Homo sapiens: one gene and its partners. The protein of the gene in region 1 purifies or fractionates together with the protein of each later gene. This does not show direct contact. Each region holds a gene or a part of one and is shown on either strand. Other genes may lie near its edges.

Evidence for each region.
Region 2: the proteins of KCNK16 (region 1) and CYP51A1 purify together in Homo sapiens (affinity purification with mass spectrometry; 3 studies listed by BioGRID and IntAct, with this or other methods). This does not show direct contact.
Region 3: the proteins of KCNK16 (region 1) and UBXN7 purify together in Homo sapiens (affinity purification with mass spectrometry; 3 studies listed by BioGRID and IntAct, with this or other methods). This does not show direct contact.
Region 4: the proteins of KCNK16 (region 1) and GHDC purify together in Homo sapiens (affinity purification with mass spectrometry; 3 studies listed by BioGRID and IntAct, with this or other methods). This does not show direct contact.

What each region holds. Positions count from the first base shown.
Region 1 is NC_000006.12:39,319,692-39,327,593, forward strand, and holds the start of KCNK16 (potassium channel subfamily K member 16), read right to left. Parts: upstream 3,012-7,902; 5' UTR 2,850-3,011; coding exon 2,637-2,849; intron 1-2,636. UniProt on the Homo sapiens protein: K(+) channel that conducts voltage-dependent outward rectifying currents upon membrane depolarization. Voltage sensing is coupled to K(+) electrochemical gradient in an 'ion flux gating' mode where outward but not inward ion flow opens the gate.
Region 2 is NC_000007.14:92,131,461-92,139,171, forward strand, and holds the start of CYP51A1 (lanosterol 14-alpha demethylase), read right to left. Parts: upstream 3,018-7,711; 5' UTR 2,905-3,017; coding exon 2,713-2,904; intron 413-2,712; coding exon 314-412; intron 1-313. UniProt on the Homo sapiens protein: Sterol 14alpha-demethylase that plays a critical role in the cholesterol biosynthesis pathway, being cholesterol the major sterol component in mammalian membranes as well as a precursor for bile acid and steroid hormone synthesis.
Region 3 is NC_000003.12:196,429,420-196,436,797, reverse strand, and holds the start of UBXN7 (UBX domain-containing protein 7), read left to right. Parts: upstream 1-4,370; 5' UTR 4,371-4,398; coding exon 4,399-4,471; exon of another isoform or gene 4,472-4,596; intron 4,597-5,356; exon of another isoform or gene 5,357-5,413; intron 5,414-7,378. UniProt on the Homo sapiens protein: Ubiquitin-binding adapter that links a subset of NEDD8-associated cullin ring ligases (CRLs) to the segregase VCP/p97, to regulate turnover of their ubiquitination substrates.
Region 4 is NC_000017.11:42,191,479-42,198,674, forward strand, and holds the start of GHDC (GH3 domain-containing protein isoform 1 precursor), read right to left. Parts: upstream 3,017-7,196; 5' UTR 2,915-3,016; intron 2,373-2,914; 5' UTR 2,289-2,372; intron 2,117-2,288; 5' UTR 2,104-2,116; coding exon 1,839-2,103; intron 1,550-1,838; coding exon 1,428-1,549; intron 1,265-1,427; coding exon 763-1,264; intron 1-762.

The DNA of each region.
Region 1 (7,902 bases):
CCCTTGCCTATGGGAGAAATTCTAACAGAGGCCAAGACAAAGGTGGCACGTGTGAGTGTGTGTGTGTGTGTGTGTGTGTGTGTGGTGGTTGTTTATATGTGATGTGTTGTATGCACGTGTTGTGCATGGCAACTGTATGTTGCACATGTGTGCATGTTTGTATGTGTGTTGCATGTGTTTTCACAAGACCCGAACCTTTGCCGGCTCAAGCCTACAACACCTCCCTTCGCTGCCCCACTGCTGACAACCTCCAGTCCCTGGGCCCAGCCGCCTTGGAGAATAGGCAGGGCTCTCTCCTCCCCTGCCCCAACCCTCTCCTCTTTAATTGTGGACTGTCTCAGAGCAGCAGCACAGCCTTGCCACCGAAGAGCCCCAAAGGCAGGAGGAAGCCAGGGACACAACAGTTCTGGCTTCCAATTCCTATGGGAACCAGTTCCCGCTGGCTGGGTGGGTGTGCTTAGATCAGGGCTGGGGTGGCCCTGGTGGGCCAAGCCAGTCAGGGCATCTGCGGTCACAGGCTGTCTGCTTCTCCTCACTTTGACGGGAACTGGCCTCTTAAGATGTGGACTTTGGCCTCCCTTTCTTTCCCACATCCACAAAGTGGCCAGGGCCCAACATTCCCGAACATGCTCGTTCTCTGGAGACCCTCACTTCTGGGGGCAGTACTCTAGTCCTGGGCCATCCCCCACTGCCAGCCTGCAGCCCTCATCCTGCTGAGGGTGCTGAGTGCCGGTGGGCGGATGCAGGTGGCCATGGGTTCTGACTTCCCAGTTTTGTGAACCTGGGCAAGCAGTGTTTCGTCACAGAGGCAATGTTTAATACTGCTTTTAATACTAGTTACTCAACTCGCCCTGTGCGTCTGAGAGTTCAACAGGAATGTGTCTTCTTCCAGAATCTCACCCCAGTGTTCTTCTGCCACCCAGCTCAACTGCCCCTGGCAAGGAAGGGTCTCTCCTGAGGCTGAGGACTCTCAGGGAAAGGGATGTCCTGTCTTCCCTGGGGAGGCCCCAGGGGCTAATCAGTGGCAATCCCTTCGGGGCTGCAATCAAGCGGATGGCCTCCTTTCGTCTTGGTTAGCAGAGCGAGTTAGGTTGCAGCTACCAACCCTTCCCACGCCCTCCAGCTTGGCTCTCACCTCCAATGCAGAGCTGAGGGAGGAGATTTCAGCTTCTCCAGGGCCTCTGCCTTACTCCCAGGGTTTTGGGAGGCCCCTGAACTGTTCTCAACCCTGATGTGGTACTATGGTCCCCCAACTTTGACTAACCTTATCCATCAGGGAGAAGAGAGTAAAACCTGAAGCTGGAGGCCTCACTTCCTGGTCTCTCACAGCTACAGAATGTTGTCTGTGACCACCCAGCCCACGCATCATCTTCTAGGCCAGCTGTTCTCAGTCTTCAGGGTCCTCAACATCACCTGGAGAGCCTGTTGACACACAGCCTGCAGGACCCATCCCTAGAGTTCCTGAGTCGGCAGGTGCGGAGTGGGGCTTGACATCTCCAGTTCTAACAGGCTCCCAGGTGATGCTGATTCTGGTCCCGGGACTACACTTTGAGAACTGCTGCTTCAGGTTGCATCCTGCCCCCAGCACTTATGCTAATTTGTGTGGTGAAGACCCGGGGCTCCAGAGCCAGAGGCCTGGGAGTGAATGCTGTCTCTACCAGTAGCTGTGCAGCCTTGGTCAACATATTCTACCTCAGTTCCCATCTACAAAGTGGAGATAGGGATTGTAATAGGTAATTATGAGAAAACACCTGTAACACGCTCAGTGTCAGGTGATGAGTGGATCATGATTGGATTAAGCTGGTCATGACCACCCTGCTTCCCACTGTTTTAGGCACATTGTGAATGCTCAGTAAATGCCAGTTATCAAGGTGATTTGGCACTTGGTCTGTTCCTTTGCAGGGGATGTTGTCACTCGCTCCAGTGCCTATTTCAGATGCATTCACCTCCCTCCACAACACCTGGTTTTGTCTTGTTTCTGGGAAAGAGGAAACCAGAAAGGACCCAGGCAGGGGGTGACCCACTCTGTTACCAAGAGAGAGCCCCATTTGGGTGCAGTGCTGGCAAGCTCAGTCACCTTGGCCATTGCCCACCAAACCCAACTCCAGGTGCAAACAGGCCAGGAAAGGACAGCTTGGTGGTGGCTGCTCCTGGCATTTATCTGTGTCTCCCACCCGCAGCCGTCTGCCCAGGGATATGAGCTGGGAGAGGGCAGAAGGAGCTGCAGCCCTGGAGTTGGGGAAGGGGAAGTATGAAAGTGTGGGAGGAGGAAATTTGGATAGCGTTGATAACGCTGACATATAGTTCCCATTCATCCAGCAAGTGACAGCTTAGAGAGTGCTTTTAATCTGCTGTCAAATGTCTGCAGTACCGATATGGTTATTCTTGTTGCCTTATAGATGAGGCTGTTTGGGTCCAGAGAGGTTAAGTGACCTGTTCAAGGTCACACATCAATCCAGTTGTAGACCTGGGGCCAGAATCCAGGATTAGATCTCACCAGGCTCTCTGTTCCCACCACACTCTTCTTCCAAATGGGGCATCAGCTCCTGGGTGAGGACTGTGGATCTGCCACAGGAACCCCATTCCACCAACCTTCCCAAGCCTCTCCATCCCAATCCCACATCGCTCCCCTTCACCTGCACAAACTGCTCCATGGCCCACTGGTCCAGGCAGGTGTAGTTCTCCAGGAAGCGCAGCTTCTCCAACTGAAACTGGTCCCTGGACTGAGCCTCCGCCTGCCTCTCTAGCAGCTGGAAGATAGTGGCACCGAGCAGCAGGTAGCAGACATAGGCCAGCAGCAGGGGCAGCACCCGGCCACCCCAGCAGCTGCAGAGCCCAGCACTGGGCATGCTGTGGCCAGGACCCTGCCAGGGCCGTGGGGCTGGCTATGGGGGAGAGGTGGGAAACAGGTGAGGAGTAAGCACCTAGGGGCCTGTGCCCAGGCTGCCGCCTGCCCTGCCCTCCTCCTCGGCACAGGTGTCTGGAGGCTGGGGAGACTGTTTGAACAGTGCGGCTCAGCTTGGCTGCACTAAGTGCTATGCTGTGAGTGCAAACAGGCCGGCCACCCCCACCCGGCCTTTGTTTCCATGGACAGCAGCAAGTCAGTGTCAGGGACCCTTCAAAGAGACCTACCAGGTTCTCCTGAGTGCTTCATGTCTCTCTCTCTGTCTCCAAGTTGGATAGATGTTTCTGGGCTAAATCGGATAGGTGTGCTCACTCTGTCCAGGCCCCAGTGGGCTCTCTCGGCCGCCCCCAGCGTCTTCACCCTTGAAGGCTGTAAGACCCCAGCTTAGGAGCTGGGAAGAGGTCAGAATGGGTATGAATAAACCTTCTACTCAGTTGCCTTGGCTACAAAATGGGGCAGGATAATTGAACTGCCTATTGGGGGAACCTCAGGATGAGTAAACTGCGTGACAAATCAGGGCAAAGTAAATAGACAGGTGATTGTCTCACTCAGCCTGATGGTAAGAGTATCAGGGTTGATTCTGCTGATAAGTTGGATTCATTGGTTTTATAACTCTTGCTAATTTGTCTTGCATGAAGCCCTCTAGTGGGTTACCTTCAGAGGATATGTCGGTGAAATATATGTGTGAATTAAAAAGAAACTATAAGTATATCCTGATCCTGGGATGGTAAGAGGGGCTGTCTCTGAGTGGATGGAATTGAGAGTGCTTTCCTTTCTCTTTGCCTGTGTGTGTGTGTGTACACATGCTTGTTTATGTACATGTATAACAGCTTTATACAGATATAATTCACATGCTGTATCGTCCACACATTTAAAGTGTGCAATTCAGTGGGTTTTAGTATATTCACAGGGTCTTCAAGATCCAGCCCTGTTGCAACATGTAACAGTACTTCTTCCTTCTTTCTGGCTGAGTAATATTTCATTGTGTGGCTATAACACATTTGTTTATCCATTTGATTTCTAGTTGATGGACATTTGGGTTGTCCCTGTTTCCTTCTATTAAGAACAAAGCAGCTATGAACCTCTGTGTATGAGTTTTTTTTGTGGACATGTGTTTGCATTACTCACAGGTACATACCTAGGAGTAGAATTTCTGGACTATCTGGCCACTCTGTATTGAACTTTTTGAGGAACTGCCAGGCTATTTTCCAAAGTGGCTGAACCATTTTATATTCTCACTAGCCCAGGGCGAGGATTCCAATATCTCTGCTGTGTTTTCTGCTGTTTCCTTTAATGAGCTGTGGCTGCAGACACTGTGAGTTGCCTGCTGAGTATCCTTTCCCTCCTCCCCAGCTAGCAGAACCCCGGCTTTGTAAGTGTTAACCCCAGGTAATTGAGCATAATTGGTCTAAGTCATAGTGCTAATCTTGCTCCCCTCTGTCTCAGCCCCTGAGAGCAGTGAAGTCACTGAAGACCCATAAGACAGTGGGCAAGAGGGCCAGGCTGAGGAGAAAGCCAAACAAGGCACCACAGTCCCAGCCTCAGCCTGGTTCCTGGGAGCTCTGGCAGGTGAAGTGCACCCCAGTGAGTCCCAGCAGGGGACCTGGGCCTTCATATCCCCACATTAGTCCGTCACTCATGCATTTCTGGCTTTGCGCACGTGCAGGAAAGATGGCTCCAGGAGCTTGTGGAGAGACCCCTGAAGGAGAGCTCCAGGTGCAGGCTAGGCCACTGGGAGAAAAACACATTAAAGCCTGGGGAGGAGACCCCAGGGTCGAAGCGTCCCCTGCACCCACTTTCCCAAGCTCCCTTGCAGCTGGGGCTGGCCACGTGCCCAGGTCCAGCCATGATTGGGCAGAGTTGGCTGAGGAGGTTTGGGCAAAATTGTTGTCTGTTGACCAAGGGTTCAGCTGCAGCTGGCCCCGCATTTCTGCCTCTTTCTGTCTGGACCTGCTGAGCCATCTTGTGTCCCTGAGGGAAAGGTCATGGGCACTGCAAAGACACTGGACCAATTCCTGCACACTCCTCTCTAGATTTCTTTTTATATTGAAAACATAAACCTTGTTTCAGCCACCATTAGGTATTATGTTACTTCCCAATTGTTATTATGAGTTTTTGTTGTTGTTCTTTGTTTGTTTCTTTGTTTTTTTGAGATGGAGTCTCACTCTGTAGCCCAGGCTGGAGTGCAGTGGCATGATCTCAGCTCACTGCAACCTCCACCTCCTGGGTTCAAGCAATTCTCCTGCCTCAGCCTCCTGAGTAGCTGGGACTACAGTTGCGCACCACCATGCGTGGCTAATTTTTTGTATTTTAGTAGAGACAGGGTTTCACCATGTTGCCCAGAGTGGTCTTGAACTCCTGAGCTCAGGCAATCCACTCGCCTCGGCCTCCCAAAGTGCTGGGATTATAGGGGTAAGCCACTGAGCCCGGCCTGAGTTCTTTTTAAAAAACTGTTCAAGGCTTATTTGAGTTGGAAGGGATCAGAACACACTCCAGGTATTTCTGGTAATTAGACTGTGTGCTGTAGGAACTGGGGAGCAGCCAGGGTTCTGGAGCCTCCTAGCTTTCCACCAGCAGCGTGGCCTGACCACTCTCTACTCGCCCCAGGTGCCTCCCATCCGCCGTTTCTCTGCCTTGGGGCTCCACTCCTGGCTGACCTCCTGGCATCTGGTCAGATCCATGCCCATTGCCCTCTGCTGCTTTATCTTGGTATCTCTTGGCTTAAATCCTTTATGGATGGGCTAAATGCCCAAGAGTGCCTTTTCATGGTGGCTACTCTACAGGTGTCTGGTGGGCTGAGGATGGCCCAGCCTTGGATGAAGCGGCCTTCTCAGCTGACCTGCCCCAGCCCAGGGGATGGGGACATCACACATGTAGGCACCACCTGGAAGGCACTTGTCATGGCAGATACGGTGGCCTTTCTGTCCAGGACAAGCAACAATTGTTTTTGTAATAAGGAGGAGAGAACAAAAGAGAGAGTGCGAGAGAGAGAGGGAGAGCGAGAGAGAGAGAGAGACCTTGTAGAAGATAAAAGCAAGAGGGAGACATTATTTTTCAGGTATGTGGGTGATCAAGAGATTGGTAGTAACATAGGGTTCTGCTAAAAACCAAACAACAACAAATCACAGTGAGCGGAGGTGGAGCCCACATTGTGTGGGCTGTTCATTAAGAATGTCCCGACGCAGTGACAAACCTGCAGGCTTTTGTCCACCCTGTGGCTTAGGCACGGCCCTGTCTGGGGGTGGTGTGATGGAGCCCACCTTCTCTGGAATTCTGCTGCTTCTGGAATCCTCTGAGGCCATCTGGGGATCTCTGAAGTGGTTCTGTGCAAGCCCCACTTCACATGGTCCGGGAGCTTTCCCAGACGGCACCTTGTTGGGATGTGGGCTTGTCTTGGAGGGAGAAGGAAGCATCTGGAATCAGTGGGGCAACAGAGTGCTGGCACTCATTTCTGCTACAGATGCACCAGCTCCTGGCTTAAGCAAGAGTTAGAATTAAATCTGAAAGGCAGCGTGAGAGTCAAACCCTATTCGATTGCCCTGGAGAAACTCAATACATGGAGAGCTCTCTCGTGTATCACTTAGAAAGCTCATCCGTGGATGTCTGCAGGGCTTCAGGCAGGACTGAGTAACTCTGTAGCACTGAGTATCTTTGAGCAGTCTGGACACAGTCCACAGGTAATGACGGTTGTTCTAAGGGGGACGGAAACGAAGGAAAAGAGAATGGACTATCTGCATGGGAGAAGGGGATGAACGTAGTGGGCCACAGGGACGTCTGAGATGGGCTGGGGTAGAGGGAGGGATGAATCAGCCATCAAGGTGCCCTCCCTCCCTCAGGTCCTGGGCAGGAAGTGTACCAGGCTCACTGTGGGCAGACACTCCATTCATTTATGAATGATCTGTTGGGAACCTACTGTGCGCTGGGGCTATCTGTTGAGACTCTACCATGTTCTGGGAAAGTCAGCCAGCACAGCTTCCTCCTGCCTTTCCTGGCTCTTTCTCTCCACTGCTGCCTCTCTACTCTCTTCTGGTCACACCCTCACATCTCCCTCTTACATCAGTTTTTCACAAACCACCCAAGCCCAATAAGACTTCACCTGGCTGGGGTTTAGGATAGAGTCTTTCTCAGAAGCATGTTCAGTTTAATGGGGGACTTCTGAAAACCCTAGGGCCACAAAAGCCACAGAAAGGGCAACATAATGGTGGACTTTGGGGGAGATCTCAGCTCAAGAGGCCCACAGACTGTGCTGTAGGAACTGGGGAGCAGCCAGGTTTCTGGAGCCTCCTAGCTTTCCACCAGTAGCCTGGCCTGACCACTCTCTACTCGCCCCAGGTGCTTCCCGTCTGCCGTTTCTCTGCCTTGGGGCTCCACTCCTGGCTGACCTCCTGGCATCTGGTCAGATCCATGCCCGTTGCCCTCTGCTTCTTTATCTTGGTATCTCTTGGCTTAAATCCTTTATGGATGGACTAAGTGCCCAAGAGTGCCTTTTCATGGTGGCTACTCTACAGGTGTCTGGTGGGCTGAGGATGGCCCAGCCTTGGATCAAACAGCCCCCTCAGCTGACCTGCCCCAGCCCAGGGGATGGGGGCATCACACATATAGGTACCACCTGGAAGGCACTCGCCGTGGCAGATACGGTGGCCTTTCTGTCCAGGACAAGCAACAATTGTTTTTGTAATAAGGAGGAGAGAACAAAAGAGAGACTGCGAGAGAGAGAGGGAGAGCGAGAGAGAGAAAGAGAGAGAGAGAGAGAGAGCTTGTAGAAGATAAAAGCTCTCTGCACCAGAGAGGATGTTCCCATCCTGCCTCCCTCGCTTCCTGCCTTAACTCATTCTACACACACTGACTGAGCGCCCTCCATGTTCTGGGACCTGATTCAGCTACTCTTCCTAGTCCACTGTGGTCTTGTGAGGTCAGCGCTTGGTCAAGATTAGGAGAAAAACTGCAGGGCTGCAGAGACCTCTCTGTCCAACATCTCCCTACGTGGGCACTACTCT
Region 2 (7,711 bases), on another chromosome or scaffold:
TAATTAATATCAATTTTAATGACAATAAGTGAATAGAAAACTCAGAACAGTGGCTTTTAAACCATAGTTGCCAGAACTACAGGTTTCCTCAATGGTGTCTCAAAGACGACCCCAGGACATGGGAAAAGCTAAAAGGATAGGTATCTATAAGACACCATCTCTTAAACCAGAGCAGTTTCCATTTTGTTTCCTATACTGAGGATATGTATATGATTACAATGTTTTTAAATGTTCTGCCACTTTTTTAAAAAAGTTTAAAAAGCACTTCTCTAGTTGTTTTTTTTTTTTTCCTCTAATTATTTGGAAGACTTACCTTCTCATATGCATTTTCTAGAAATTCAATTGGACTTTTCCCAAATGCTATGGCATGCCCAAGGAATGGAATTGGGGAGAAAATGTATGGAGGACTTTTCTACAAGAGAAAAAAATAGTAAATTCAATTCGTGTTTCATTTCAAGAGAGAAACCCAGTTTCGTTTCATGACCAAACAATTAAACAAAATAGCTATTAAGACTTCAAAAAAAAGTTACCAAAAAAAAAGGAAGCATCAGAAGTAACTTGAGAACAGCCAAATTGCAAATACCTCAAGAGAGTAGCTATTGTAGAAAAGAACAGAAACTCAAAACACGGTATAAGATAAACGACCAGATAAACACTAAGGCACTGTAAATTTAAATGATGGACACTGTCCAGAATATGTCCAATTATTATTGGTGTCTCCAGGCAACTTTTCTAACCATTAGTAGCAAAAAACCAAAAAGGTCAAACTACACTTGTCCCTTGGCATTTGTGGAGAACTGGTCCCAGGACCCCCTCACAGATTTGTATCCAGGGATCCTCAAGTCCCTTATATAAAATGGCAAAGTATTTGCGTATAACCTATGCACATCCTCTCATATACCTTAAACCATTTCTATATTACTTACAATACCCAATACAATGTAAAGGCTATATAAACTGTTATTAAACTGTGTTTTTTTATTTGTATTATTTTTTATTGTTGTGTTATTTTGTATTGGGTTTTTTTCCCCTGGGTATTTTAGATCTACACTTGGCTGAATTCCCAAATGTGGAATTCGTGTCCCCAGAGGGCCCACTATATTGTTTCTTCACTACTTACTACTACTACTACTCACAATTTTAGTCCCAGATACTTGCTTAAAGAAGGTATAGAAAAAGACAAGCAGTAACTTGTAGTATAGAAAGAAGGGAAATGTTTAAGAAGCTATATTTACTTCTCAGTAAACAATCAATCTCATGCTTCTCTCACTGCAAGTGAACTAGAGCCACTGATTTTAGAGTTTTTAAGAGAGTAGATCAGCTCTAGCAAGAACTCTAGCATTCTTCATAAAAGTTTCTTTAGATGCCACAAAATGAGACCTGCAGATTACAACATTAAGTATCCTGAAAATCAAACAAAATAATGAAAAAGGGTAATACTCCTCAATTCTCTGGTGGTCTCAAATAGAAAGGAGCACCACAACCTCACAGTACACCTCAGCTAATAGAACTATCTTTAAACACTAAAAGTAACTTTGTCTTCCCAGAGACAAATATCATTTCCTTAAAGATCCCATGTGTAGGAAAAAAATAAATAAATAAATAACTCTTTCTTATGCCTGGTATGGTTCAAACAAAAATTATTTTAAAAGCTACTTGGTCAAAAGTTTGTACATTGCATTGTCAGTAAAAGGGTAGTTTTCAAAAGCTACTTATTGCTGACTGTAAAAGGCACAATCAAATAACATTTGGGAGATTGAAAGCTAGGTTAATAAGGCTGTTAAATTGAAGAAAATGATTTTTTTTTTTTTTGAGACGGAGTCTCATTCTGTCGCCCAGACTGGAGTCCAGTGGCGCAATCTCGGTTTACTGCAACCTCCGCCTCCTAGGTTCAAGTGATTCTCGGGCCTCAGCTTCCCAAGCAGCTGGGACTACAGGCGTGTGCCACCACATCCAGCTAATTTTTGTTTTGTTTTGTTGTATTTTAGTAGAGATGGGGTTTCTCCATGTTGTTCAGGCTGGTCTGGAACTCCTGACCTCAGGTGATCCGCCCGCTTCGGCCTCCCGAAGTGCTGGGATTACAGGCGTGAGCCACTGCTCCCGGCCGAGAAACTGTTACATTATTAGCATCAGAGGAAGGCCCTTACCACACTCCAGTCACTACCATTACCACACTCTACACATCCTCCTTAATATGGGTATAAACCACCATTAGGGGCACTGCTACAGCCCACAGAACACTGAACCACACAGGGCAGCCTCCAGGATGACGGGCCAGCTGCCAACAGCATCTCCGTCAGGACCCCCACCAAGGGCCCCAACGACCACCGGGTCGTTCAAACCCACAGCCGCCAATCCAGCCACCGCCACTAGGGGCACCACTGCTGCGGTCAGTACAGACCGCTACAACCACAAATGCCGCAACCACGACCCCGTCTAGGATCAGATACACAGCCGGGGAGGCCAGCACCGCCCCCCAACACAAGGCAATGGCGGGTGCTACAGCCAGCGCCACCAGCAGCAGTGCCGCCGCCGCAGCCACTACTCCAGCCCCCAGCGCGCCTGCCACCAAAGCCACGCCAAGCATGGCCGCAGTCGCCCCCGCCCTTGCCATCCACTGAGCCGGTCGGGGCCACGGAGCCGCCCACGCCAGCCCTTCGGCCGCCTCAGCTGCGGCGCGCGCCCCACTCAGACCCTAAAGAATGTACGTACCACCCCTGCGGGCAGCTGGACCAGGTGGCCGGCGGCCAGACGGATCAGGTAGACCAGGCTGAGGGTGAAGGCGCAGGCGATCAGCAGCATGGACAAGAGGTTGCCGCCTGTCACCTTCTCCATCGCCTGGCCCAGCACCGACCCACCCGCCTGCAGCAAGCCCAGCAGCAGCATCCCAGCCGCCGCCGCCATTCACTCCGTCGGAAACACTGAAGGCCGAGGTCGCCACCGCTCCTCCCAATCGACGGAACGAGAGAAGCTGGCAGATGGTCGTCCACAGGGGGCCTTGCCCCAGGTCTCCTACTAAACCCAGCCCCACCCCTCGGGTCCCACGCGCGCCACCCCGTGCGTCACAGAATGGGGCGGGATGTTCCGCTGGCCACGCCCCTTAAATAACACTCTGTGAAGCCGTGGTCTTCTTGCGCGGGATAGGGCACCTGAGGAAGCGGGCTGCGCCTGTGGCACAGTGGTACGGGGCCGGAAGATAACTTACCTGAAGAGGCGATCAATCCCTGAGAATCGCGGGCGACCCGTTTTTTGTGTGCCCGGGTGCGGGGTGCCGGGACACGGCGTTGAAGGCGCTGAGCGGAGGGATCTCAGGGCGAGCTCGAGCGGCGACGGCGCGCTCTGTGATTGCACCGCGAGCGCCTGAGGTGATCTCGGCCTACATCGCGTCAGCGGGGCCTTGGGCGTGAGCACCGCCCCCTGTCCGGACGCAGGGTACTGGGGCACCTCGAACTGTGGCACCTCACCCTTCTCCGGGGCCACGTCTTGGGGACTCCGACAGCCCCAAATAAGCCCTCGGGGACTGGGGTTGTGAAAAGCGAGGTCGTGAAGACGCCGGCCTCATACCGAAGGGTAGGACGGTGAGGTCAGCCCCGTCCCACTCCAACTAAAATCAACCTGACAGGTATTAATATGCCACCATGAAGTTAACAAATGTTGGTGATTAAGTATGCTAGGTTTTACGAAAACAGATTTTCCAAAATAAATGTACATGTTTTAGGACGTCGCGAGCCGTTTGAGGCAGCATTCCCCAAGGACGCCACTTAGTCTGTAGGTTTAGCGGCTAGAAAGATTCAGAAGCTGAGTTCAGTCCTGCCGCCACAATCAATCTTCGCTCCTATGGCTTCACAGAAGCGTCTCCCATGACTACCAAATTTAACTCCTTCCAGATCACCCACGGGAGCACCTGACCGGATTCATTTATTTAATCAATGTTAAGAACTAGGTTTTGTGCTAAGCTAGGGGATAGAGCAGCGAATGAGACAAAACTGCAAGGCCCTGGGGGAATTAGTAGGAATATCCAGTGAAAGGGAAATTAATGAATTTTATAAGTATACTAATCAAGAAGTATATTCTTTTCCTTTGAGGTAGAATGTAATATAGCACCTCCCCTACCCAAGGCCTGGGTTAAGAGTATATTAACTGCTTATTTCTCCCCTATGCGTGGAGAGGCTTATCTGTGTTCCATCGTTTCACATTCCTTGAGGCACAGCGAGTTCTTGCTTCCCTCCCTAGCGCTGCTGTAAAGTCACAAAACTGATTAGCAAGTGTTACAAAAGCATGTATTCCCAAGGACGTAAGACATATGGTGTAACAAATGTAAGAGTAATTTACTGCCTTTGTTCTTGCTTCTGCAAGTACACTTCATGCAACACGTAACTCCCAACACAAACTGCTTAAAAGGTGATTGATCCCTTTGTTCGGGGCTCAGACTTTCTGGACCCTAGTCCGACTGAGCCGGTGATCACCTTAATAATAAAGGCTCTCCTGAACTCTGCTCGGTCTCTCCCGTCTATGATTTGTCCCGCAACACCAGTTGCCTGCGGAACACCTCTACCTAGAGAGCTAACACTCATCCCCGGTCAGTAAATCCAAAACTAAACCCGTTGCCTCCTCCTACCAACCTGTCCCTCCTATAATGCCTGTGAAGAAAAGGCATCACTGTGCACACTGTTGCCCTCTCCATGCTTCATCTAATCAGTCATCAGATCCTATAATTCTACCACCTTAAAAGTTTCACCGTTTCTTCCGTCCAGTCGCGGTGGCTCACGCCTGTAATCCCTGCACTTTGGGAGGCCGAGGCGGGAGGATCACCTGAGGTCAAGAGTTCGAGACCAGCCTCACCAACATGATGAAACCTCGTCTCTACTAAAAATACAAAATATTAGCCGGACGTGGTGGCAGACGCCTTTAATCCCAGCTACTCGGGAGGCTGAGGCAGGAGAATCACTTGAACCTGGGAGGCAAAGGTTGCAGTGAGCCGAGATTGCGTCACTGTACTCCAGCCTGGGCAACAAGAGCAAAACTCTGTCTCAAAAAAAAAAAAAAAAAAAAGAAAGAAACTGTGATATATATAAATATATATTTATATATTTATATATGGAATGGAATGCTACGTGGTCACAAAAAGGAATGAATGAATGGCATTTTCAGCAACCTGGATGGGATTGAAGACTATTATTCTAAGTGAAGTAACTCAGGAATGGAAAACAAAACATCATATGTTCTCACTCCTAAGTGAGAGCTAAGCTATGAGGATGCAAAGGCATAAGAATGACACAATGGACTATGGGGACTCAGGGAAAGGGTGGAAGGGGGTGAGGGATAAAAGATTACAAATTGGGTTCAGTGTATACTACTCGGCGATGGTTGCACCAAAATCTCACAAATCACCACTAAAGAACTTACTCATGTAACCAAATACCACATTTCTTAAAACCCTATGGAAATAAAAAATTAAAAAAGAAAAAAGAACCCAACAGTCTTCTATTAAGCCAGGTGTAAAAGAGATTTACAAAAATCTAAAACTATGCCATTCTTCTCACTAATATTTTATTTTTGAAAATATAGCTATAGGCCGGGTGCGGTGGCTTACTCCTGTAATCCCACCACTTTGGGAGGCCCTGGTGGGTAGATCACAAGTTCAGGAGTTTGAGACCAGCCTGACCAACATGGTGAAACACCATCTCTACTAAAAATACAAAAATTAGCCAGGCATGGTGGCGCGTGCCTGTAATCCCAGCTACTCAGGAGGCTGAGGCAGGAGAATCGCTTGAACTCGCAAGGTGGAGGTTGCAGTGAGCCGAGATTGTGCCACTGCACTCCAGCCTGAGTGACAGAGCAAGACACCGTCTCGAAAAAAAAAAAAAAGAAAATATAGCTATATTCATGAAATGACATTATTTATGTAAATAATTATTTTCAATAAACATTTTCATTTATTTTAATTTGTAATACTGTAAGTTTTGATAGATATAATCCATTTAAAAAAATGACTCTCTAGGGTTCTTAATAATTTATTATTTTAAGTCCTAATGTAACCACCCAAGGGGTTCACCTTGCCTGCTGCCTAGACAGAGCCAATTCATCAAGGCAGGGGAGTTGCAATAAAGTAATTCACGCAGAGCCAGCTGTGTGGGAGACTGGAGTTTTATTACTCAAATCAGTCTCCCTGAGCATTTGGAGAGCAGAGTTTTTAAGGATAACTTGGTGGGTGGGAGTTGGGGGGTAGCCAGTGAGCCAGGTGTGGTGATTGGTCAGGGGTGAAATCACAGGGAGTTGAAGCTGTCTTCCTGCCTTCAGTCAGTTCCTGAGTGGAGGCCACAACATCAGATAAGCCAGTTTATTAGTCGGTGGTGCCAGCTGATCCATCAAGTGCAGGGTCTGCAAAATATCTCAAACACTGATCTTAAGAGCAGTTTAGGGAGGGTCAGAATCTTACAGCCTCCAGCTGCATGACTCCTAAGTCATAATTTTTAATCCTGTGGCTAATGTTAGTATAGTTCCCAGGCAAGAAGGAGGCCTGTTTTGAGAAAGGGCTGTTACTGTCTTTGTTTAAACTATAAACTACAAACTAAGTTAGTTTCTCCCAAAGTTCGTTCAGCCTACACCCAGGAATGAACAAAGACAGCTTGGAGGTTAGAAGCAAGATGGAGTCTGGCTGGGCATGGTGGCTCACACCTGTAATCTCAACATTTTGGGAGGCCGAGGTGGGTGGATCATTTGAGGTCAGGAGTTTGAAACCAGCCTGGCCAACATGGGGAAACCCCATCTCTTCTAAAAATACAAAAATTAGCTGGGCGTGGTGGTGGGCGCCTGTAATACCAGCTACTGAGGAGGCTGAGGCAGGAGAATCACTTGAACCTGGGAGGCAGAGGTTGCAGTGAGCCGAGATAGCACCACTGCACTCCAGCCTGGGCAACACAGTGAGACTCTGTCTCAATAAAAATAAAAATAAAAAAATAAGCAAGATGGAGTTGGTTAAGTTAAATCTCTTTCATTGTCTCAGTCATAATTTTGCAAAGGCGGTTTCAGGTTCCCTTCATAGACACAGAGCAGTTGTCCTGTCTGAAGTTTACCTCTCTGCTGCTCCTCAGTGAATGGGCTTTCTTTAATCCCTCCCCATTAAAAAAAAAAAAAGTCCCATTCCCTTGCAGGAAAACTGTAATGCCTACCCACAGGGATTGGTCTCCCTCTGGCATCCACAGCCCACCCCACAACACTCCAAACCCCAACTCTACCTTTCACCAGCAGAGCAATTCATAAGACACAATTATGCAAAACATAATAAATCTGATTTTTTCCGTAGGAGGTGGTTCAGGAAAACGGTCCCATTTGGCACCTCAAGTCTAGGTCCCTCAAGTCTCTACAACAGTATGCAAAGAAAATGTTCATCTTCATTCTTCTTATAGTTTTCTGGTAACTTACTGAACCAAGCGCACACACACTCTCCAAGGACAAACATTTTTCAGTGCTGGGACAATGCAAATTCAGGTAAGGGAAGACAAACATTTCCCTAAGTGCAGATAAATCTACACTGATTTTCCTACTCTTAACAGAATGGGTTGGGCATGGTGGTTTATGCCTTTAATCCCAGCACTTTGGGAGGCCAAGGCATGTGGATCACGAGGAGAGGAGTTCAAGACCAGCCTGGCCAGAATGGTGAAACCCGTCTCTACTAAAACTACAAAAAAAAAAATTAGCCAGGCATGGT
Region 3 (7,378 bases), on another chromosome or scaffold:
CACAATCTCGGCTCACTGCAACCTCTGTCTCCTGGGTTCAAGTGATTCTACTGTCTCAGCCTCCCAAGTAGCTGGGATTACAGGCGCCCGCCACCACGTCCAGCTAATTTTTGTATTTTTAGTAGAGACGGGGTTTCACCATGTTGGCCAGGCTGGTCTGGAACTCCTGACCTCAGGTGATCCACCCACCTCGGCCTCCCAAAGTGCTGGGCCTACAGGTGTGAGCCACCACACCTGGCCTGTCAAAGGTTTTACATATTGTTATTTCAGAGAACCAGCTTTTGGTTTTATGAATCCTCTCTTCTGTATTTTGTATTCTATTTTGTCAATTTCTGCTCTTTAGCATTTTTTCTTCACATTTTTCCTTGTCTGCTGAGTTGTTGTTCCTTTATTAACTTCTTGATGAAATGCTGAGCTACTTATTTTCCAGTCTTCTTCTCTAATATAACCAGTTAAGCTTATATATTCTCCTTTAGCTTCTGTTAAAACTCCATCAGTTTCGGGCCAGGCTCTGTGGCTCACCCTGTAATCCCAGCACTTTGGGAGGCTGAGACAGGTGGATCACTTGATGTCAGGAGTTCAAGACCAGCCTGACCAACATGGTGAAACCTTGTCTCTACTAAAAATACAAAAATTAGCTGGGCATGGTGGCCTGCTCCTGTAATCCCAGCTACTTGGGAGGCTGAGGCAGGAGAATCGCTTGAACCCAGGAGGCAGAGGCTGCAGTGAGCCAAGATCCTGCCACTGCACTCCAGCCTGGGCGACAGAGAGAGACCCTGTCTCAAAAAACAAAACAAGATGAAACAAAAAAGACCCAAACAAACCAAAAAGCTCCTCAAGTTTTGGAATGTATTTCCATGACCATTCCATTTTACATTTGTGTCCATCAATTTCCTCTTTTCCATCCTGCTCTCTGCCCCGGGGCTGCCTGTGGGAACTACAAGGGGCTTCTTGCTGTGCCCTCTGTCTTCCATTTGGGTTCAGCCATTGGGGATTCCTGGCAGGAGACAGAAGAGGAGATCGAGGTCAGGGTATCTATGTCCCTGAGCTCCTCTCTGAGATTGCCTCAAGCTGCTTATTTATGTCCCTTGACAGAAGGTCATTGCTTCTTGCATGGTGGTTTGCTCTGCAAAAAAATCTCACTTGGGATTTCTCTAACTTCTCTCTGTTCTCATCTCTTTGGACGTATGGGTTGTGACAGTTCTACTGTTACTAGTATGAGATCCTCCACTGTTCCTTGTGATTTCCACATATCTTACCCAGGCTGGAGTGCAGTGGTGTCATCATGGCTCACTGCAGCCTCGACCACCTGGGCCCAAGTGATCCTCCCGCCTCAGCCTCCAGAGTAGGTGGGACTACAAGCTTGCACCACCGCACCTGGCTAATTAAACTTTTTTTTTCTTTTTTCAGAGATAGGGTCTCCCTATGTTGCCTAGGCTGGTCTCAAGCTCCTGGGCTCAAGTGATCCTCCTGTCTTGGCCTCCCAAAGTGCTGGGATTACAGGCATGAGCCACGACACCCATCCTTCATATTCATATTCTTTTTTTTTTTTTTTTTTTTTTTTTTTGAGACGGAGTCTCACTCTGTTGCCCAGGCTGGAGTGCAGTAGCTCATTCTTGGCTCACTGCAAACTTCACCTCCCGGGCTCAAGCGATTCTCCTGCTTCAGCCACACGAGTAGCTGGGATTACAGGCACGCACCATCACGCCCAGCTAATTTTGTATTTTTAGTAAAGATGGTGTTTCACCATGTTGGTCAGGCGGGTTTGGAGCTCCTGACCTCAGGTGATCCCCAGCCTCGGCCTCCCAAAGTGCTGGGATTACAGGTGTGAGCCACCGCAACTGGTCAGTCCTTCATATTCTTTAATAATCCAAAAAAGCTTTTCAAGGTTGTATTATTCATTACTTCTTTATTTATTTTTCCCAGTTCCCTGGTTATCCATGGAAACTGTCTCATTTTCTTCCCTTCTTTCCCCCCCTCCCCCCGACCATGGAATCTTTTTGGCCACCTGTCTAATTTTCTTTTATCTTATTTTTTAATTTCTAAAAAAATGCCTTCTGGAGTTGTGGATGCCACAGACTTTATCACCTTTTCCTGCACTGTTAATCAAAATCATATCATTAAATCTGAATTATAAGATTTTGGAAATAAACCTGATAAACCTGCAGAGCTCATTACTGGCCTCTCCATCTGATGGAGGTACAGTAATCACTGTGTTTAGTTTTTGTAGTTAATGGTGTTATACCATTTTACGTGGAGCTTGATTTTGCATGGCTGGCTAGTGACTCAGCCTTTAGGATGAAGGGAGACAGAGGTAACACTTTCTTGATTTGGCTTTCTTCCCTTGCCTGTTTTTGCACCTCTGCATCAAATGTGAAGGAATCAGCTGCCGAAATTTATGACTGATCCCTGCCCTTCCTCAGCCCATCTAGAGAACTGCAGCAACCTGGAAGGCAGTGCCAGGACCAATCTGTCATTTAACTTAAAATACATTTTTTTTTTTGAGACGGAGTCTTGCTCTGTCACCCAGGCTGGAGCACAGTGGCATGATCTCGGCTCACTGCAACCTCTGCCTCCCGGGTTCAAGTGATTCTCCTGCCTCAGCCTCCCAAGTAGCTGGGATTACAGGTGCCCGCGCCACCACAGCAGCTAATTTTTGTATTTTTAGTAGAGATGGGGTTTCGCCATGTTGACCAGGCTGGTCTGGAACTCCTGACCTCGGGCGATCCGCCCGCCTCGGCCTCCCAAAGTGCTGGGATTACTGGAGTCTGCTTTCTTTTACATCAATCATATCTTCTTGAAACTACAGCCCGACTGGGTGTGGTGGCTCACGCCTGTAATCCCAACACTTTGGGAGGCCGAGGCGGGTGGATCACTTGAGGTCAGTAGTTTGAGACTAGCCTGCTCAACATGGTGAAACCTCGTCTCTATTAAAAATACAAAAATTAGCCAGGCGTGGTGGCGTGTGCCTGTAATCCCAGCTACTTGGGAGGCTGAGGCAGGAGAATCGCTTGAACCCGGGAGGCGGAGCTTTCAGTAAACTGAGATTGCACCACTGCACTCCAGCCTGGGCGACAGAGCGAGACTCCCTGTCAAACAAAACAAAACAAAAAACTATACCCCTTGATTTGACATGGCTCTTTCTTAATTCTCCCCAATAGCATGTTTACTCTTAGGATGTGTCAATTCTTCAGACAGCTCATCCCATCTTTTATTGGGCCATTTTCCTATGAAGATGCAAAATATGTGGGTGGAGGTTGGAAGGTGGGAGGCTAAAACAAACGGAATCACTTGGAATCTCTTTTAACTTTATGGGCAAGGTGGGGGATTATTGGATTTGAGCGCACCCCACTCATGTAACTGTTTTGCAAAATACTTAAAATTATTCAAGGAACACACGAATATCTTTTTTTTTTTTTTTTTTTTGAGATGGATTCTTGATATATTTCCCAGTCTGGTCTCGAACTCCTTGCCTCAAGCGATTCTCCCACCTCGGCCTTCCAAAGTGCTGGGATTACAGTCATGAGCCACCGCGCCCGGCCAATAATGTTTGTTTAAAAATAAAAAGATAAATAAGAAACTCGAAGTAAGGTCCGCTTTGACCATCGTCCCGATCGTTCTCTTCTCTGGAGGTAACCGTTACCAGCGTTTTGAGCACACTTTTCCAGTCTCCTTTCTATATGTTTTCTTTCCTCTACTGCATATACAGAGTTTCTTTTTATACAAATGACGCCTCTTGGGGTCTCATTAAGACCCTAACGGGAGACGTGATGGCCAATTTATTTAAGGAAAGCAGACTAAACAATCGTTTATGAAAACCTACTGGGTGGCAACCCCGCGCTAAGTGCTTTCTTTGGCATGAAGGGTTCTGGTATTTCACTCGTCGCAATCGGTTAGCTAAGCCATTAGTTTAGAGGCTGGGGGGCGAGTACGGGGAGAGTCGCTTCAAAGCGAGGAGGTAGGGTTTGCATTTTGATGGGACCTGCAGGAAACCTAATAGAGTGCGGTACAACCGCAAAACAGAAAAATGCTGTCATCGGCAGTTGGCTCTGTCAATAAAGCTTGCGAAGCTGAAATGCGAAGAACTATCTGCCGAGACCGAAGCTTCCTTCGGAATCTAGGAATCGACACCGCGCCTGCGAGGCTAGCCTTGGAGCCCGGAGAGGAAGGCACCAGCAATGGCAAAAAGGATGCACTGAGCAGGCAGCAACCGAGCAGCCAACCCGAGAGCTGGGAGCGCGCGGGCCCGGTCGGAAAATGCGCCTGCGCAGACCGCTGGGGACGGGAGGGGCGGGGCTCGAGGGGCGGTCAATGCGCCTGCGCACACCGCACGGCGAAGTGGGGGAGGGCAGTCCGTGTGTGTCTGTGTTGTTGTTCGGCGGCGGCGGCGGCGGTAAGATGGCTGCCCACGGGGGCTCCGCGGCGTCCTCGGCGCTGAAGGGGTTAATTCAACAGTTCACCACCATTACCGGTAAGAGACGCGGTTACCGGAAGGTGGAGAGTGGGGTCCGGAGCGGGCAGCGGGTCTGCCCCGGGCTTCCCCTTACCTTCAGGCATTCCTCCTTCGGGCTTTACCCACAGCTGCCGTCCTCCCTCCTGAGGAAGAGGCGACGACGGCGTCGGGGTCTCCGGGTTCAGGCGGGAGACAGCCCCCCCCCGCTCCCGATACCCTCGTTCTCTGTCTCCTAGTAGCGTGGAGGGAGATCCCCCAACCCCCCGCCAGCCCAGACCTGGGAATGGGCCGAGTCCGTCCGCCCCCGCCGGCCCGGGGACCCGGGGGCGGGAGGAGTAGGGGGCCGCACCCGGGCCACCGCCCTCCTCCTCCTCCTTCATCATCTTCCCTTCTCTGTGCAGCCCTGCGGTGCGGTGCATCTCCTCACCTCCTTTTTTCCTTTCTTCCCCGGCCAGGTCATTCTGCCCCGGTCCCCGGCCTGCCCTTCCCCTTTCTGGGCCCCTCGGAGCCATCGCCGTGGCCCTGGCGGGTTCGGGCCCTCCCGCCTTCACGGCAAGGCCGGTGGGTTCGGCCGTGCCTTTACACTTCACGGGGGACAGGCCGCCAGAAGCGGGGGGTGCTGAGGAGGACCTCAGGGACTGAGGCTTTGAGGGAAGAATGAGGGGGAACCCCCAAGCTGAATAGGGGAGGCCTGGAAGAATCCAGGGTGGCGTTTCCCACCTCCCCATAATAAAATCATAAAGACGGAGACGATGGCGCCGGGGCCTCCTGCTGATAAGATAGGGATGGCGGCAGAAACTTCTTTGAGAGAAAATCTGTTTCTGGGTGTCGGTATCCCCGAAACCCTAGGCCTAGGTTCTCTCCCTTTGGACCCCTGCGAAGGACACACGCAGATCCTCTTACCGCCTGGAGGAAAGGCCCTAAAGCCATTCTATGAATTCTCTCTGTCTTGTTTCTCTCTGATGGTGCTGAACTTTTCTTGCATGAGTTATTAGAGGGCGGAGCAAATGATGAAGTTCTCTGTGGAGTGATTTGAGAGAAGAGTACTCCAATGTGCCTGAGTGTAATTTTGCCGTTCTAGTTTGTCGTTTTGGAAGGAGGTCAGAATGTTAGTTCCCTCTCAACGGATCTATACTTTATCTCGTAATTTGTTAGATGCGGAGAATGTTTCCACTGTTAATGTTCCTAGAGTTTAACGTGCAATATCTGGTTAAGTAAAATTTTATATTGTTTTAACTACTACAGGTTGTATACTAGTTACCGTTTTATATTAAAGCAAGTTTTATTTTTTTGCTTTGCAATGATAACGAGATATTTGACGCATTGTTATCTAGCTTGTGGGCATGGAACATCAGGTCAAAGTAAAGTAAAATTTGCAATAAAATTGGGGTGAGGAGTTGCATGATAACTTCTCTTAATATTTTTGAACTTTGTGATTGGATTATTGAAGATATAAAGGATTGGATTATTATATTAAATATGTAAAGGATTTCCTAATGTCTGACAAATCATTGCTATGGAGAAGATTATTGTGTATATAAGTTAGTGTTGCTGCATTATGCTTATATAGAAAAATCTTTGCAGTGAATCTGATAGAGAAGTGAATATCATTATTAATCCTTTAGATTTCCTAGAGATGGTTTATGATGCCACTTGGGCCTGGCGCGGTGTCTCACGCCTGTAATCCTAGCAGTTTGGGAGACGGAGGCTGGAGATTCACATGGGGCGAGGAGTTGCAGACCAGCCTGGGCAAAACATAGTGAGGCCCCATCTCTACAGAAATAAGAAAATGAGCTGGATGTAGTGGCACCGACATGTAGTCCCAGCTACTGGGGAGGCTGAGGTGGGAGGATTGCTTGAGCCTAGGAGTTCAAGGCTGCGGTGAGTAGATCATACCACTGCGCTCCATCCCTGGCAACAGAGCAAGATCATTTCTCAAAAAGAAAAAAAAAGCCACTTATTATTATTATTATTATTATTATTTTGAGACAGTCTCGCTGTGTTGCCCAGGTTGGAGTGCAGATCTCCCAGGCACGATCTTGGCTCACTGCAACCTCCACCTCCCGGGTTCAAGCGATTCTCCTGTCTCAGCCTCCCGAGTAGCTGGGACTACAAGCGCCTGTCACCAGGCCCGGCTAATTTTTGTATTTTTAGTAGAGGCGGGGTTTCATCATGTTGGCCTGGCTGGTCTTGAACTCCTGTCCTCAAATGATCCACTCACCTCAGCCTCCCAAAGTGCTAGGATTACAGGCGTGAGCCACCGCGCCTGGCCCTAAAAGCCACTTAATTAATTTTCAGTTTCTTATGCTAATTACTACTCTTCCCAAACTCTGATTGGTTTAACGCCACATTACTTCTTCTGTTGCAACATTTTTATTAGGTACACACAAAAACCGAAGTGTGGTGAGTTGAATTGACTCACTTAATTGCTTTAATTCTGTTTCTGTTCGTCTACGTAGCTTGATTGCTGGATCAAGTTGGAGTCCCTCAATCAGTAGACAGTGGTATCTGGAGATCTACAGAGCGAAAATACCTTTGAGTGTTCTTCAAATATTGTGAATTTCTATTGATAATTTTTGGGATTCTTTTTACAAGATAGTGATTAACCGTTAGAAACACATGATTGATTTCTTTTTGCCTTTTTTACATGTCTTAAAATTTTTTTGGGGTTCTCTCCACATACGTTTTAATCGTAGTGTTTATAATTAAAAGGTATTTTATATTTATTTTAGTGACCTTAATAGCTTATGCTCTGATTTCACAAAGGTTTTACTTGGAAGCTCAATATTCTTGTAAAAACAAATGCATCATCAAAAATGTGAGTCCTTACTTTTTAGGCAGGAGCAAAAAAAAGAAAAAGAAAAAATAAAAATAAATGTGAGTCTTATCTTTTTTTGGCATTTAGAAATAGAACGGAAAATTGAA
Region 4 (7,196 bases), on another chromosome or scaffold:
GACAGAGTCTCGCTCTGTCACCTAGGCTGGAGTGCAGTGGTGCGATCTCGGCTCAGTGATTCAGTGATTCCTGGGTTCAAGTGATTCTCCTGCCTGAGCCTCCTGAGTAGCTGAGATTACAGGCGCCTGCCACCACACCTGGCTAATTTTTGTATTTTTAGTAGAGACAGGGTTTCACCACATTGGCCAGGCTGGTCTTAAACTCCTAACTTCAGGTGATCCACCCACCTCAGCCTCTCCCAAAGTGCTGGGATTACACCCGTGAGCCACTGCCCCGGCCTTTTTTTTTTTTTTTTTTTTTTGAGACAGGGTCTTGCTCTGTCACCCAGGCTGGAGTGCAATGGCGCGATCTCAGCTCACTATAATTTCTGCCTCCAAGGTTTAAGCAATCCTCCCGCCTCAGCCTCCCAGGTAGCTGGGATTATAGGCGTGCACCACCATACTCCGCTAGTTTTTGTATTTTTAGTAGAGATGGGGTTTCGCCATGTTGGCCAGGCTGGTCTGGAACTCCTGACCTCAACGATCCATCCACCTTGGCCTCCCAAAGTGCTGGGATTACAGGCGTGAGCCACTGCACCCAGCTACAAGACTCTTAACCTAGAGAGCCTGAATTTCTTCACTTGTAAAAGGAGGCTGCTGGCCCTAGCATGCAGCTTGTTGGGGAGGATTAAATGAGATGATTATGTAGGGCCCAATGCATGGCTGCTTGTCATGTGACCACTGACCGTTGCCCCCACCTCACTGCCCTTGAGTCCCACTGACCTCCCGAGGCAGCATAAGCAGGAGAGAAGAAGGCTAGTCCTTGGCACCACAAGGCCCCGAGGGCAGCCACAGCCTCGGCCTGGCCTCCTGCATCCAGAGTCACCACCACCTGCAGCTTTGGCCAGAGCCGAAGGGCCAGTCCCCGTGGCCCCTGCTCTAGGGCCTCCCGGAGCTCAGCTGCCCGTTCACGGAGAGGCGCTCCAGGGTTCCCGGCAGCTATCGCCCCAGCTAGCTCTTCACCATCAGTCTCCAGGCCCAAGAAAACATCCAGAAGTTCGACAGCCGTCCCAGCCTCCAGTGCCCTCAGCCCTGGGGACCTCAGTGCGTCCAGCAGCAGGGCCCTAGGGTCCTTGGTTCCAGGGGTGCCCACCTGGCCCAGGGTATTCCCAGGCCAAGGCAGGGGTCGGGGCCAAGGGGATGTAAGCGTCACACGGGCAGTGCGTCCCTGAGCCAGCACTTCTGGGTAGGCCTTGTTTAGGGCTGCCAGACCCAGCAAGGTGGCCTGGAGGAGGAAAGAGAGAATGTTGGTCTGGTGTCAGAGCCAGACCCAGAGCCCCCATTTGGGGGTTCTTTGCCCACCATGACTGGAGGGTTTGGCTGCAAGTCAGAGGTCTCTGGTGGGACTGGGCTGTGGCCAGGACTGGGCTCTGGCCATCCTAGATTACCTGCAGAGAGGCCTCCCCAAGGTCCTGGTTTGAGGTCGGGGGCAGTGGCTGCTCTCCACTGTCTTCCTGCTGGGTCTGGCTGGCCTTGGTCAGAGGGAGATGATTCCGGAAGGTGCTTATGTCTATAGCCCCAATGACAACAGAAACGCCTCAGGAAGCCAGTTTCCCAAGAGTTTCAGGCAAGACTGGTGAGACCCTTGAGGGAGGAACCGAGAATAGGCCTGGGGTAGAGAGGATGTAAGGACCCAGCATGGGAAATTCATCTTGGACAAGAAAGCCAGTCCTGGGTCTCTGGGTCAGGCCACTCCGTTGGCAGTGGAGGAGGTAAGGGGGCCATCAGGCTCTGGAATCTGACGGTCCTGTGGGGTTTCTTTCTCTTTGGGTCACCTCCCCAGACCCTGGGAAACACACCTGTGCTCCTTCTGAGGGAACAGTGGGGGCGCTGGGCTCCCTGTAGACACCACCTCAGGGCCTGCTGCTGGCTCTGGTGCACATGGAGCGTGCTCTGCTCCAGCCTCCGCCGCTGCCAGGTGGCTGCCCAGACCAGGGCCCCCCATGCCACTCGGTGCTGGAGGCCAGCAAGCCAGGACAGCCTGGCATCCTGGGACCGCTGCTGCCTGAGCAGGGCCAATGTTGGCAGCAGCAGCAGCAGCAGCAGCAGTGGCCACAGCAGCATCTCCAAGCAGCTCCTGGGAAGAGGAAGGAACCGAGATATGGGGGCATGCAGCAATTATCCATTTCTCCTCCCACGCTCTACTGCATACAGGAAAACCGAGGAAAAATGAAATTGGGAAGAAGGCAGGACCCTGTGGGGCAGGTGATGCAAAGGAGAGACTATCAAAGCTTTGGAGTCCCACTGACCTGAGTGCAGATCCTGCCTCTGCCGCTTGTTAGCTGTAGGGCCCTGAGCAATTTAGTGGGCTGCACTGAGCTCTGTTTCCTGATCTGCAAAATGGGAATAAGAATAAGAATGCCTCTTTCAGAAGGTAGGGGTGGGCCGGGTGAGGTGGCTATCATCTGTAATCCCAGCACTTTGGGAGGCTGAGGCAGGAGAATCACTTGAGCCCAGGAGTTTGCAACCGGCCTGAGCAACATAGGGAGACTCCATCTCTACAAAAAATTGAAAAACTAGCCCAGCGTGGTGTCACACCCATAGTCGCAGCTACTTGGGAGGCTGAGATGGGAGGATCCCTTGAGCCCAGGATGTCAAGGCTACAGTGAGCCAAGATCGTGCCACTGCACCCCAGCTTGGGCAACAGAGTGAGACCCTGTCAAAAAAAAAAAGAAAAGAAAAAAAAGGGAGAAAAGAAGGAAGAGGAAGGGAAGGTACAGGAAGGGTTTCGGACAGGGTCGGTCGGGCACACAGCAGCTGCGTAACGATATCTCTTGCCCACTCCCGAGTGGCTTTGCTTTCTCTCGGGATCCACCCTGTCCCAGCTCCTTGTCCCTCCTGAGCCCCAGGCTGTGGGGTCCATGCCCACATGCACCTGTCACAGCCCACTTCTGCCTACTCCTGGCACGTGACGGAGACCCCTGGGTGACTCTGGGTCTCAGCACACATCCGGCCAGAAAGAAGGAGCGATGGCTTTAAAAGGCTGGGCCCCAACTGGGAAATCCGGCCACCAGGCCTGAGGGAGGAGCTGAAGGAGGGGGGTGCTCTTAAAGGGGCAGGTCGCCTACAGGACTTCATGTCGGGTGCTAGCCCAGGCTGGCAGTTGGGGCAGTTAGGACCAGACTAGCATGGTCCTCAAACTTGCGCAGGTGAAGGAACAGAAAGGTGTGTGTGGGAAAGAACGCCATTAAGCCACTTGAGCTGGGAGAGGGGCAAGCTTAAGAACTCTTAAAACCCCAACTCAGCTGGGCGCGGTGGCTCACGCCTGTATTCCCAACACTTTGGGAGGCTGAGGCGGGTGGATCATCTGAGGTCAGGAGTTTGACACCAGCCTGACCAACATGGTGAAACCCCATCTCTACTAAAAATACAAAATTAGCCAGATGTGGTGGCACATGCCTGTAATCCCAGCTACTTGGGAGGCTGAGGCAGAAGAATCACTTGAACTTGGGAGGCGGAGGTTGCAGTGAGCTGAGATTGCGCCATTGTACTCCAGCCTGGGCAATGAGCGAAACTCCGTCTCAAAAACAAACAAAACAAAAACAACAACAAAAAAAACCCCATCCTCTCCCTCAAGGTAGTTGAGAAAGAAAACAATTTTATTATTGAATAAGCATTCAACCACAATGTGATGTACATGACAGGTGATCTGCTAAGAGCTTGCAAAGAAGGGAGGAAATCTTACTTTTTTGTATAGCCAAGCGCATACAACCCATTACATACACGTTTTCAAGATAAACAATAACGAGTCCTCAAGTAAGAGGACTTGTCACATATAGTTTATCTTTTTTTTTTTTTTTTTTTTTTGAGACACAGTCTTGCTCTGTTGCCCAGGCTGGAGTGCAGTGGCACAATCTCAGCTCACTGCAACCTCCACTTCCCAGGTTCAAGCGATTCTGCTGCCCCAGCCTCCCAAGCAGCTGGGATTACAGGTGTGTGCCACCACGCCCAGCTAATTTTTGTATTTTCAGTAGAGATGGGGTTTCACCATGTTGGCCAGGCTGGTCTCAAACTCTTGACCTCAAGTGATCTACCCTCCTTGGCCTCCCAAAGTGCTGGGATTACAGGTGTGAGCCACCACACCCAGCCAGTCACATAGTTTATCTTAACTTTACATGGTTATTAGGTGAACATCTGTGTTAGCTTGCTGGCTTTATCCCAAGGAAAATTACAAACTTCTTTTTTTTTGTTTTTTTGGCAGAGTTCTATTCTTGTTGCCCAGGCTGGAGTGCAATGGCACGATCTTAGCTCACTGCAACCTCCGCCTCCCAGATTCAAGCAATTCTCCTGCCTCAGCCTCCCGAGTAGCTGGGATTACAGGCACGCATCACCACACCCAGCTAATTTTTTGTATTTTTAGTAGAGACGGGGTTTCACCATGTCACCATGTTGGCCAGGCTGGTCTCAAACTCCTGACCTCAAGTGATCCACCTGCCTCGGCCTCCCAAAGTGCTGGGATTACAGGCCTGAGCCACTGCACCCAGCCAGTCACATATAGTTTATCTTAACTTTACCTGGTTACTGGGTGACCATCTGTGTTAGCCTGTTGCCTTTATCCCAAGGAAAATTACAAACTTCTCTTTTTTTGTTTTTTGTTTTTGAGACAGGGTCTTGATCTATTGCCCAGGCTGGAGTGCAGTGGTGCGATCATAGCTCACTGCAACCTCAACCTCCTGGGCTCAAGAGATCCTCCTGTCTCAGCCTCCCAAGGGACTGGAACTACAGGTACGCACCACTACGCTCAACTAATTTTATTTTTTGTAGAGACGAGAGAGCTCCCTATGTTGCCCAGGCTGGTGTGTTCTTGACCTAGGCTCTCAAAACACTAAAACCACTCCCTTTCTCCCCTTACTTGCCTCTGGATACCTTTGAGAAGAGAGCTACTACTTGCTGAGCACCTCTCTTCCCTTCACAGCTGAGCTTCTTTCAACAGGTCTGTTCTCACTCTGGCTAACTCACCTCACTTTCACGTTTTTTCTCGCTGAGATCTTGCATTTGCTTTTATTATTTATTTAAAGACAGGGTCTTGCTCTGTTGTCCAGGCTGGAGTTCAGTGGCCTGGTCACAGCTCATTGCAACCTTGAACTCCGGGGATCAAGCAATCCTCCTACCCCAGCCTCTGAGTGGCTAGGACTACAGGCATGTGCCACCACACCCAGCTAATTAAAAACATTTTTTTTTTTTTTTTGTAGAGACAGGGGGTCTTACTATGTTGCCCAGACTGGTCTGGAACTCCCGGTCTCAGCGATCCTCCTACCTTGGCCTTCCAAAGTGCTGGAATTACAGGTGTAAGCCACTAGACCTGGCCCAGTAACAGCTTTATTAGATATAATTCACACACCATACAAATCACCCATTTAGTGTACAATTCAAGATCTAGTATATCCAGAGATATGTGCAACCAACACCACAGATAATAACATTTTCCTTACCTCAAAAACAAACCCTGCAGAGTCTCTCTGAGCCTACTGTGCCTCAGGAGACTGCCCAATTCGTTAAATAAAATAAAATAAAATAAAATAAAATAAAATAAAATAAAATAAAATAAAAAACCCCAAACTCAGGCTGGGCGTGGTGGCTCACACCTATAATCCCAGCACTTTGGGAGGCCAAGGCAGGTGGATCACCTGAAGTCAGGAGTTCAAGACCAGCCTGGCCAACATGGCAAAACACTGTCTCTACTAAAAATACAAAAATTAGCAGGGTCTGGTGGCCGGCGCCTATAATCCCAGCTACTTGGGAGGCTGAGGTGGGAGAATCGCTTGAAACTGGGAGGCAGTGGTTGTAGTGAGCCGAGATGGCGCCACTGCACTCCAGTCTGGGTGACAGAGCGAGACTCTGTCTCAAGAAAAACAAACAAAAAAAAAAACAAAACAAAAAAACCCCCAAACCCTGTATCCTTTCACTATTACCTCCAAACTCCTTCCCAGCCTCTAGGCAACCTCAAATTTACTTTCTGTCTCCATAGATTTGCCTATCCTAGACATTTCCTATAAATGGCATCATATAATATGCGGTCTTTTGTACTTGGCTTCTTTTCTTTTTCCTCGCTCTGTCACCCAGGCTGGAGTGCAGTAGCATGATCACAGCTCAAGTGATCCTCCCACCTCAGCCTCCTGAGTAGGTGGGACTACAGGGGTGCACCACCACATCCAGCTAATTTTTGTATTTTTTTGTAGAGATGGGGTTTCACCGTGTTGTCCAAGCTGGTCTTGAACTGCTGCACTCAAGTGATCCCTCGCCTCAGCCTCCCAAAGTGCTGGAGTCCCAGTCATGAGCCACCGTGCCCGGCCTGGCTTCTTTCATCTAGCATGATATTGTCAAGGTTCATCCGTGACAACATCATGTCCTGTGTGTCAGCACTTCATTCCTTTTTATTGCCGTATATTCCATTGTACAGATATACCATAATACATTTTGTTTATTCATCAGTTGATGGACATTTGGGTTGTTTCTGCCCTTTGGCTATTATGCATAATGCTGTTATGAACATTTGTCACAAGTGTTTCTGTACATATATGTTCTCATGGTTCTTATGTAGATACCTACAAGTGGAATGGCTGGGTTTTTTGTTTTTTTTTAATTTGAGACAGAGTCTTGCTCTGTTGTCCAGGCTGGAATGCAATGGCATGATCTCGGCTCACTGCAATCTCTGCCTGCCGGGTTCAAGCGATTCTCCTGCCTCAGCCTCCCAAGTAGCTGGGATTACAGGCGCGTGCCACCACGCCCAGCTAATTTTTGTGTATTTTTAGTAGAGACGGGGTTTCATCATGTTGGCCAGACTGGTCTCGAACTCCCGACCTCAGGTGATCCACCTGCCTTGGCGTCCCAAAATGCTGGGATTACAGGCATGAGCCACCGTGCCCGGCCCTATTTGTTCCTTAAGAGCCAGCTCCAGGCTGGGCATGGTGGTTCACGCCTGTAATCCCAGCATTTTGGGAGGCCAAGGCAGGTGGATCACCTGAGGTCAGGAGGTCCAGACCAGCCTGGCCAACATGGTGAAACCCCGTCCCTACTAAAAATGCAAAAATTAGCCGGGAGTGGTGGCGCCTGTAATCCCAGCTACTCAATTAAAATAAAAAAATAAAATAAAAAAAAAGCTTGAGTTGCTCAGTGGCCTTCCTGCATGTTCTTTTGCATAATGACTTTGGGATGCC